Linked DNA regions of Homo sapiens. The protein of the gene in region 2 purifies or fractionates together with the protein of the main gene of each other region. This does not show direct contact. Each region holds a gene or a part of one and is shown on either strand. Other genes may lie near its edges.

Evidence for each region.
Region 1: the proteins of PGCKA1 (region 2) and STK26 purify together in Homo sapiens (affinity purification with mass spectrometry; 3 studies listed by BioGRID and IntAct, with this or other methods). This does not show direct contact.

What each region holds. Positions count from the first base shown.
Region 1 is NC_000023.11:132,071,776-132,075,596, reverse strand, and holds part of STK26 (serine/threonine-protein kinase 26), read right to left. Parts: intron 3,330-3,821; coding exon 3,236-3,329; intron 2,785-3,235; coding exon 2,722-2,784; intron 2,641-2,721; coding exon 2,504-2,640; intron 1,463-2,503; coding exon 1,438-1,462; 3' UTR 1-1,437. UniProt on the Homo sapiens protein: Serine/threonine-protein kinase that acts as a mediator of cell growth. Modulates apoptosis. In association with STK24 negatively regulates Golgi reorientation in polarized cell migration upon RHO activation.
Region 2 is NC_000004.12:37,582,905-37,586,725, reverse strand, and holds part of PGCKA1 (PDCD10 and GCKIII kinases-associated protein 1), read right to left. Parts: intron 2,494-3,821; exon of another isoform or gene 2,338-2,493; intron 423-2,337; exon of another isoform or gene 1-422. UniProt on the Homo sapiens protein: Acts as a tumor suppressor. Acts as a tumor suppressor for colorectal cancer cell proliferation by targeting KEAP1/USP17/ELK1/CDK6 axis.

The DNA.
Region 1 (3,821 bases), on a different chromosome or scaffold from region 2:
TAAAAAGAATTTTCTTGGCATACAACACCACAACAACTTTCTCAAGTATCTGTATTATGTAAATTAAAAAGAGGATGTAATGGCCACTTTGACTAAAAACTGTATTCCTTACAGGAAGAATATCTTTCTTTTAATATTTGACAATTACTCAGATTTTTTTAAATGACTTTTGTGCAAAAACCAAACTGTGCAGATCCAAACAATTAAACATTAGCTATCAAAACTAAATATCAATAATTCTACAACTACTGAAATACAGCCCCAGTTCAGAACTTAGGCAGGCATAATATATGTACTGGGCTTAAAAGAAAAAGGCATCACCCACATAATAGTACCATAAATATAAGTGAAAATTAACTGTGCAATCTAATTTAACCTTTGTGTGGACAGAAATCATCCTGTACTATGGTTATTTTCATATGAACTAGAAAATGCTCACTTAAATATCCTTTTAAAAACAACAAACTGATGCTTATTAGTGATAATTATGAAGAACAAAAATATATAAATAGTTTATAGGACAATTTATTACCATGGCAAAAATATGCTGATTTAAGTTATATTCATACCTGTTGATCAGATATTTAATCACATGACAATCAGCTTTATTTTTTGGCTCTCCAAATCCAAGCAGATAGTATGGGATTTTAGTTGAAGATGTAAAACATGAAGCCAGACTAACTCCTTCAACATTACCAAACACCTATCCTTGGGTAAATGATCTTGCTTTAAATTTCTAACCATGTGAAATAAGGGTAAAATTGCCTCTTCTACCTAAAAGAGAATGTAAATACTATACACCAAGAGGTACCTCTGTTGCTGTACATTGCCTGTAAATGCTTCAAACACAGGGTCTCAAATGTGATAATCATTGAGCTGCCTGGAATATCATACCAACTTGGTAGAAGAGTCAATACTTTTACAGGTTTCATTTAAAAGACTTTACTTAAATTTTCTGTTTTAAGAAGGTATGACTTATTTACACCTCCCCACCAATAGTCATTTTTAGAATATGCATGTTTTTTTTTAAAAAAAAAAGCTTTTTGAAGCTTGATAATTTACAAAAGCTGAATATTGAGAATGACTTTGAAAGACCTGTATGTTTCATGACTGTAGAGTCAACTAAAGATCAAAATGTGAAAGGTATTCATCCTCGTAACTTAAGAAATAGGGATACTTAAAAGCAAAACGGTGTCTCAACATTTACTAGAATACAGGTGAAACTATAGTATTAAAAGTTATTCCTTACAAAATAATCCTTTCAAAATATAAAATGATAAACGCCATCACAAAATAGTTTAATAGCTTCTTCCAAATCTTCAGTGTTGCAAAGATCCAAAAGGCACATGGAGCTCATGGGTTAAGCATTGTTAATCTTGACGTAGGTTTGGTGGGGCTCTCTGGGTCCATATGAAACAGAAGCCAATAATAAGTTTCTTAGGGGGATTCGTCTGCTGAACACCTATAAAATTTTTAAAAAATTTAAACCAATGTACAACTATGCATGTTTATATTTCTCCTTTGTATGAACTCTGCAATGAAGAAACTGATTCCACAAAAGGGATACATTGTTTCTATTGAATCTTATCATGTAGATGTTAAAATATAAACAAGTTAAAAAATCCCTTCTGCATCTGATTTCACAACTTCCGATTGATTTGTTTTCAAATGGGGGGTTTTCATTAAAATATAAGGGATTTTAAGAGGGGGTTAGGTTTGCGAGTACAAGTGAGCCTTATCAGATAGAAAGATCTTTGAGAGTGTGTGATTTCACAGGTCACAGAGTTTGTTCCATCTCGATCCCAGTGGCATCACAAACACAAAGAAATATAAAGATGCACTGAGAAGAGATATAGCAGGGTCAAGGCTAAAATCAGTATCACCTTATAGCTTGCTTGAGCTAAGGAGTGTATATGTGTGCATGCATACAAAAGTCTTGTTGAAAATTTTTTAAAAAATTAAATGTAAGAACTTTTTTGAATGCGAACAAAATCAAATGAATATTTCAAGAGACAACATAGAAACTGAAGTTGAACATAAGAGCCCTTTTTTGGTCTGGATTGAGTCCCTCTACCTTTTCCTTAACTTTTCATATGGAGATCAAACGTAGGAACTTTAGCACTGGAAACTATGCAACTAGTGGTGTTTTGTTAAATTCTGAGGGTAGTGGCAAGAAAGAAAGCATTCCACAATTATATTAATAAGAGCTCAAATGAGAATATGCTCAGTGACCTTTTGTCTATAATCCTACTAGTGGAGAAAGAAAAACAGGTCATTTCATGCAGTGGAAAACTACCTTGTCATGCCTAAAGATAATCATTCTAAAAGCTAATGTTTAAGATAGACAACAGACAAAAACTATTTTTAAGTATACAACTATGTATTGAAAGGTGACTTTGTTAGGAATAATTGGAATGGTTGAATCAAAGGAATTACATTGCATCATAAATTAACATACAACAGAAAATGCAAAATAATTTTTAAAATGACATTTCCAACTTACTTTTGAAATTTTTCAATTAGTTTCTTCACCATTTTATCTGTGATGCCGGGACAGGCGGCTTCAGCCACAGCAATACTTTTCTCGAGTTCTTCAATCGCCTGATTCCTGCTAGCGTTATTCTCGTCCTGCTGTTTAAGCTGAGAAAGAATAATAGTTAAAACATTTAAAATATTATACTACTTAACACAGATATCCAAGGCTAATTAATCTGTACTTACTTCAGCAAATGCAGGTGTGATTATCATAGACAAACAACTCAGGGTTTGCACAAGATCTTGCTCCTTTGAACAAATAATATAGATTATACACATGAAATTAAAATAAGTGTCATGATTTTCTTATTCTTTAACAAATACGAACTAATTTGAATCCCCTACTGAAAACAAAAGATTGTATGCAAGGCAAGTCTCTAAGCTTTCTTCCTATCATTCATTCTCATTCATCATCCAGAAGTCCTCTAACTTCTGGGATTACAATAGATACCTATGATTCCCTGGGCTTATGTATCTCCAGGTGAAATGCACTTAAAAAATACCAATATGGCCACTTAAATAACTTCTATTAACTTTTCTTAATTAGCTCAAAACTAATGACAAATGAAGCATACTACAAACACAGTGAGGCAGACAGGCATTTAGGGGTATTCAATCCTAACAATTTTAGGCCATTATCATCTCACTACATGGTTTGAAAAACTGTATGAAGAGTAAGTAATTGTCTCCATATACATACTGCCCCATTCTGTACTTTCTTTGGATCAGGCTTCTTTCGTACGGTGGTAAAGCTCCATTCAGGATGAGTATTGTTTTCCCTGCTGGTAGATTCCCTAAAGAGATTGCCAAAGATACCTCTATAAGTGCCCAAATGATTCAGCTTGGCAAAAATACCAAATCAATGCAGGTAGAATCTAAAGGGATAATTGTCCCAATGTTTAAAAACTCATGATGCAAAAAAGCATCTGATCTCAGCTTCAGGCGAATACTACATTTTACTACAGAGTAGTAGTGGAGTGGTTCTCAACTCTGTGTGTGCTTCATTGAGACCTCCTACCATAGATAAATACCTGTCCCTCACTACTCCCCACCTATTGAATCAGGATCTCCAGTGGTGTGGCTTGTGATTGCTTTAAGGTTCCATGAGTGACTCTTATGGGAAGCTAAGGCTAACACCCATTAGAATAGGGCACAAATTATTCTGATATTTTTTATCCCTTTCCAACATTGGACAATTTCTCATAAATGGAAGAATCTCAGAGTAGTATCTAAAGAAATTTGGTGTTGCCTTTGTGCCAGTTCAGCTGGTGGAGGACTAAATTCTG
Region 2 (3,821 bases):
GCTGGCCAGGCTGGTCTTGAACTCCTGACCTCAGGTGATCCATCCACCTTGGCCTCTGAAAGTGCTGGGATTACAGGCGTGAGCCACCATGCCCGGCTGCTTCCATTTTTTTAAACCTCTAAGTTCGTAGTAATTTGCTGCAGCAGCACAGAAAACTAGTAACATCCCCAAATCACTTCATGCTTGAGGACCAAACCCCTTGTCCTTCCAACTCTTCCTGGGAGGACTCATGGAATGTAGAAGAGTCCCTCGGACCAGCCGTGCATCTCTTGCCACCCTCTTTCCTTACCGTGCTCCACCCTTCTTCAAGTCTAATTCTCAGCACTTAGGACAGCACCTGGTACAGAGCAGGCAGTCAATAAATGTGGAATGAATGAATGATTTAATGGCTATGGATTAAAAACGAGAGCACTATCAGTGAACCTGTTGTGTGTCTGCAACCAATCAAGACATTTCCAGTTTGTGCCAGCCGTGTCGCCCAGGTGTTATGAGGGTGGGCTCAGGAGACAGAAAACCCTGCTACTGTGGGACTTTGGGCCTCAGTCACTTGGCCTGTAGATGGGGATAATAATATTCCTACTATATAGTGTTGCTGGGGGTCATATGAGCAAACATTCATAATAAACATAGACCAGGGGTGTCTTAACCACCCCATTTGGATACAGCATATTAAAACACACCCCCCAAAAAGAAAAAGATGGAGGTCTAGTATCCAAGAAAGATATAATCTAGTTGCCAGAACCTATGCATACAAACAAGAGTATTAACAATGTCAAGTAGGACTTGTTTCTGGAATAAGGGCTACATGGTATATTTCTATCAACTGTGACACCAATTGAAAGATAGAAAACCCCAAGTACAACAACAGTCCCGTAGACAGAAAAATCGCTTTTGCTATGGAACTGTGTACACATGTGTAACATTGTACCTTTCAGAATACTCTTAAACTACCCCATTTCTAAAGCCCAGGATTTTATTCCCAGCCTCTACTCCTCCTTTACTTTCCTTTTCTGCTGATAATTCATAGATGAGCTGGATAAATAGGACAGGCGAGAAGAAGCACGTGCACCTCCTCCCCTCCCTCAACACCTCTCCTCACCCCTCTCCTTCCTCAACACCTCTCCTCTCCCCTCCCCTCCCTCAACACCTCTCCTCTCCCCTCTCCTTCCTCAACACCTCTCCTCTCCCCTCCCCTCCCTCAACATTTCTCCTCTCCCCTCCCCTCCCTCAATACCTCTCCTCTACCCTCCCCTCCCTCAACACCTCTCCTCTCCCCTCCCCTCCCTCAATACCTCTCCTCTACCCTCCCCTCCCTCAACACCTCTCCTCTCCCCTCCCCTCCCTCAACACCTCTCCTCTCCCCTCCCCTCCCTCAACACCTCTCCTCTCCCCTCCTCTCCCTCAACACCTCTGATCTCCCCTCCTCTCCCTCAACACCTCTCCTCTCCCCTCCCCTCCCTCAATACCTCTCCTCTCCCCTCCCCTCCCTCAATACCTCTCCTCTCCCCTCCCCTCCCTCAATACCTCTCCTCCACCCTCCCCTCTCCTCTCCCCTCCTCTCCCCTCCCCTCCTGACCCTCCCCCTCCACAATTCGCTCTGAAATCCTGACCCTTTTCATGCCTGCAATACTTTGTTTATCCTGGACTCTTTAAAAGCAAACCAACCAACAAACAACAACAACTAGTCAGGAGGATAGGTAGTAAAAAAAAAAAAAAAAACAAGTCAAAGAAAAGGAGAAAAGAGCTTAGAACTGTTTGAGAAACAAGGAAGGCAGACTGGATTGTAATAATGTAACTGAAGCAATCATAAAACATTACTCATTGAAACATCTCAGGTCAACTTTATGATGGTGAATTCAAGAGGTGTACAGGGGAAGGCGAAAGAAAGGAGGAAAGAAAAGAGGGAGGAAAGGCGAAGGAGGGCAAGAAGGCGAGGAAAAGCAGGCAGGCACATCCAGAGTGACACCTTGCACTCCCAGCTCCTCGGAGGCTGACCAAGATTGACCCTGGGGCACCCTCCATCCCCGCCTTCTGCTGCTATAGCCAAGACCACAGGAGCAGCCTGCACCGAATGAAGTGAGTGCTGAGATTTAACAGCCGTACTCGAAAACTGCCCCTTCCCTGCTTCTGAAGGAAATATACATCATTTGCGGCTTTTAGGCTCCCCTCCTTCCCCAGGAAAACCACAGGATCTATACTGTTCTTCCAAGCTGCACAATTACAAAGGATGTTGTGGTGGTTTTCCTCTTTCAGAATCAGGTTTCCAGTTTGGGTCCTCCCCGGCTTGCCTCCCATTAGGGCACACCACATGGGTTTCCTATAGACCTGGTCCCATACCTGAGGGTCATGCTTCCGCGCCTCTCCGGAGCTTGGCGGGGACAGCCTCTTCCTGGTTAGAGGTTCTGTCCTCTCTCACCTCGCCCTGAGTTTTCCTTCCCCAGCAACATTCCTTCTCTAGATCAGACGGACAGGCTCTAATGTCCAAGGTTGTGTGACTGCTGACGAAAAGGGTGGGGACTAATGTACTCACACCCAACCCCTGCATGCCTGTGTCTACAATTATTCTTCCTTATATGATGTGTCATATCAAATTTAATTCATTTCTTTTTTCATATGTCACTCCCACTTCTACATCTTGCATTTAGCAAGGACTTCTCCTAAGCCCAGGGGCAACAAGGAAATGCTCCGGGTCTAGCATGTGACACACAGCAATGAAAAAAATATGCTCTTTTGACGTAAGATTGGGTTCAAAATGAGCAGTCTATCAGCTGTCTTCCTTGCCTCCCTTTTGGCAACAGCTAGCTTAAAGGTAAGAATTCAGTTGTTGGGTACCCTTTATTACTGAGCAAAATCAAAATTTGCTTCCTCTTTGGAGCATAAAAAAGCAACAGGCAACAAAGGGAAAATCCTTCACAACCACTTCTTAGTTTACACAGGGGAAAAACAAACACCATTAGGATGGCTGTGTCCACCCAATGCTGCTGCCGCCTGCTTCTGCAGCCCTGTGTTGGGGGCTGACTCTGTTTTGTGTTTAAACAAGGCCAGGCTATCACGAGGTCAGGAGATCGAGACCATCCTGGCTAATACGGTGAAACCCCGTCTCCACTAAAAATAAAAAAAAATTAGCTGGGCGTGGTGGTGGGCGCCTGTAGTCCCAGCTACTCGGGAGGCTGAGGCAGGAGAATGGCGTGAACCTGGGAGGCGGAGCTTGCAGTGAGCCGAGATCGCACCACTGCACTCCAGCCTGGGCGACAGAGCGAGATTCCGTCTCAAAAAAAAAAAAACAAAAACAAAAACAAACAAACAATAAAAAAAGAAGGCCATGCTAATGCCATGTCAGTCATTGGTGAAGCCTCCTTGCTGGGAGGGTAGCAATGGAGGTAGGGGAAGGGCGAAGTCCAGGGAAGCCCAGGAGTTCTCCAGCCAGGCAGAGAAATTAACTGAGTATTCATTAGGAAGTCAAGGGCATATAGGAAAAGACTCAACCCATCTGGAAGCTGCCTTTAAATAGTGATAGCTTTGAAGAATGACAGGGACATTTTAAAAGGACACAGGAATCCACTTGTAGAAGTTTTACTGGCCAAATGTGGAACAACTGGAATATTAAAATAATTACTAATCTACAGCATTTGTAGCCAATTGAATAAAACAAGGACTTATGAGTCCACACTAAGATACATAAAGGGAAAGGGAACACTCTACCTTACAAGTAGGAAACCAGCTAACAAACATACGAGAAATACTGGAACTAGAAAAATCATTTGATAGCCATCATAATAATAGAAAAACCATTTGATAGCCATCATAATAATAATTGATGT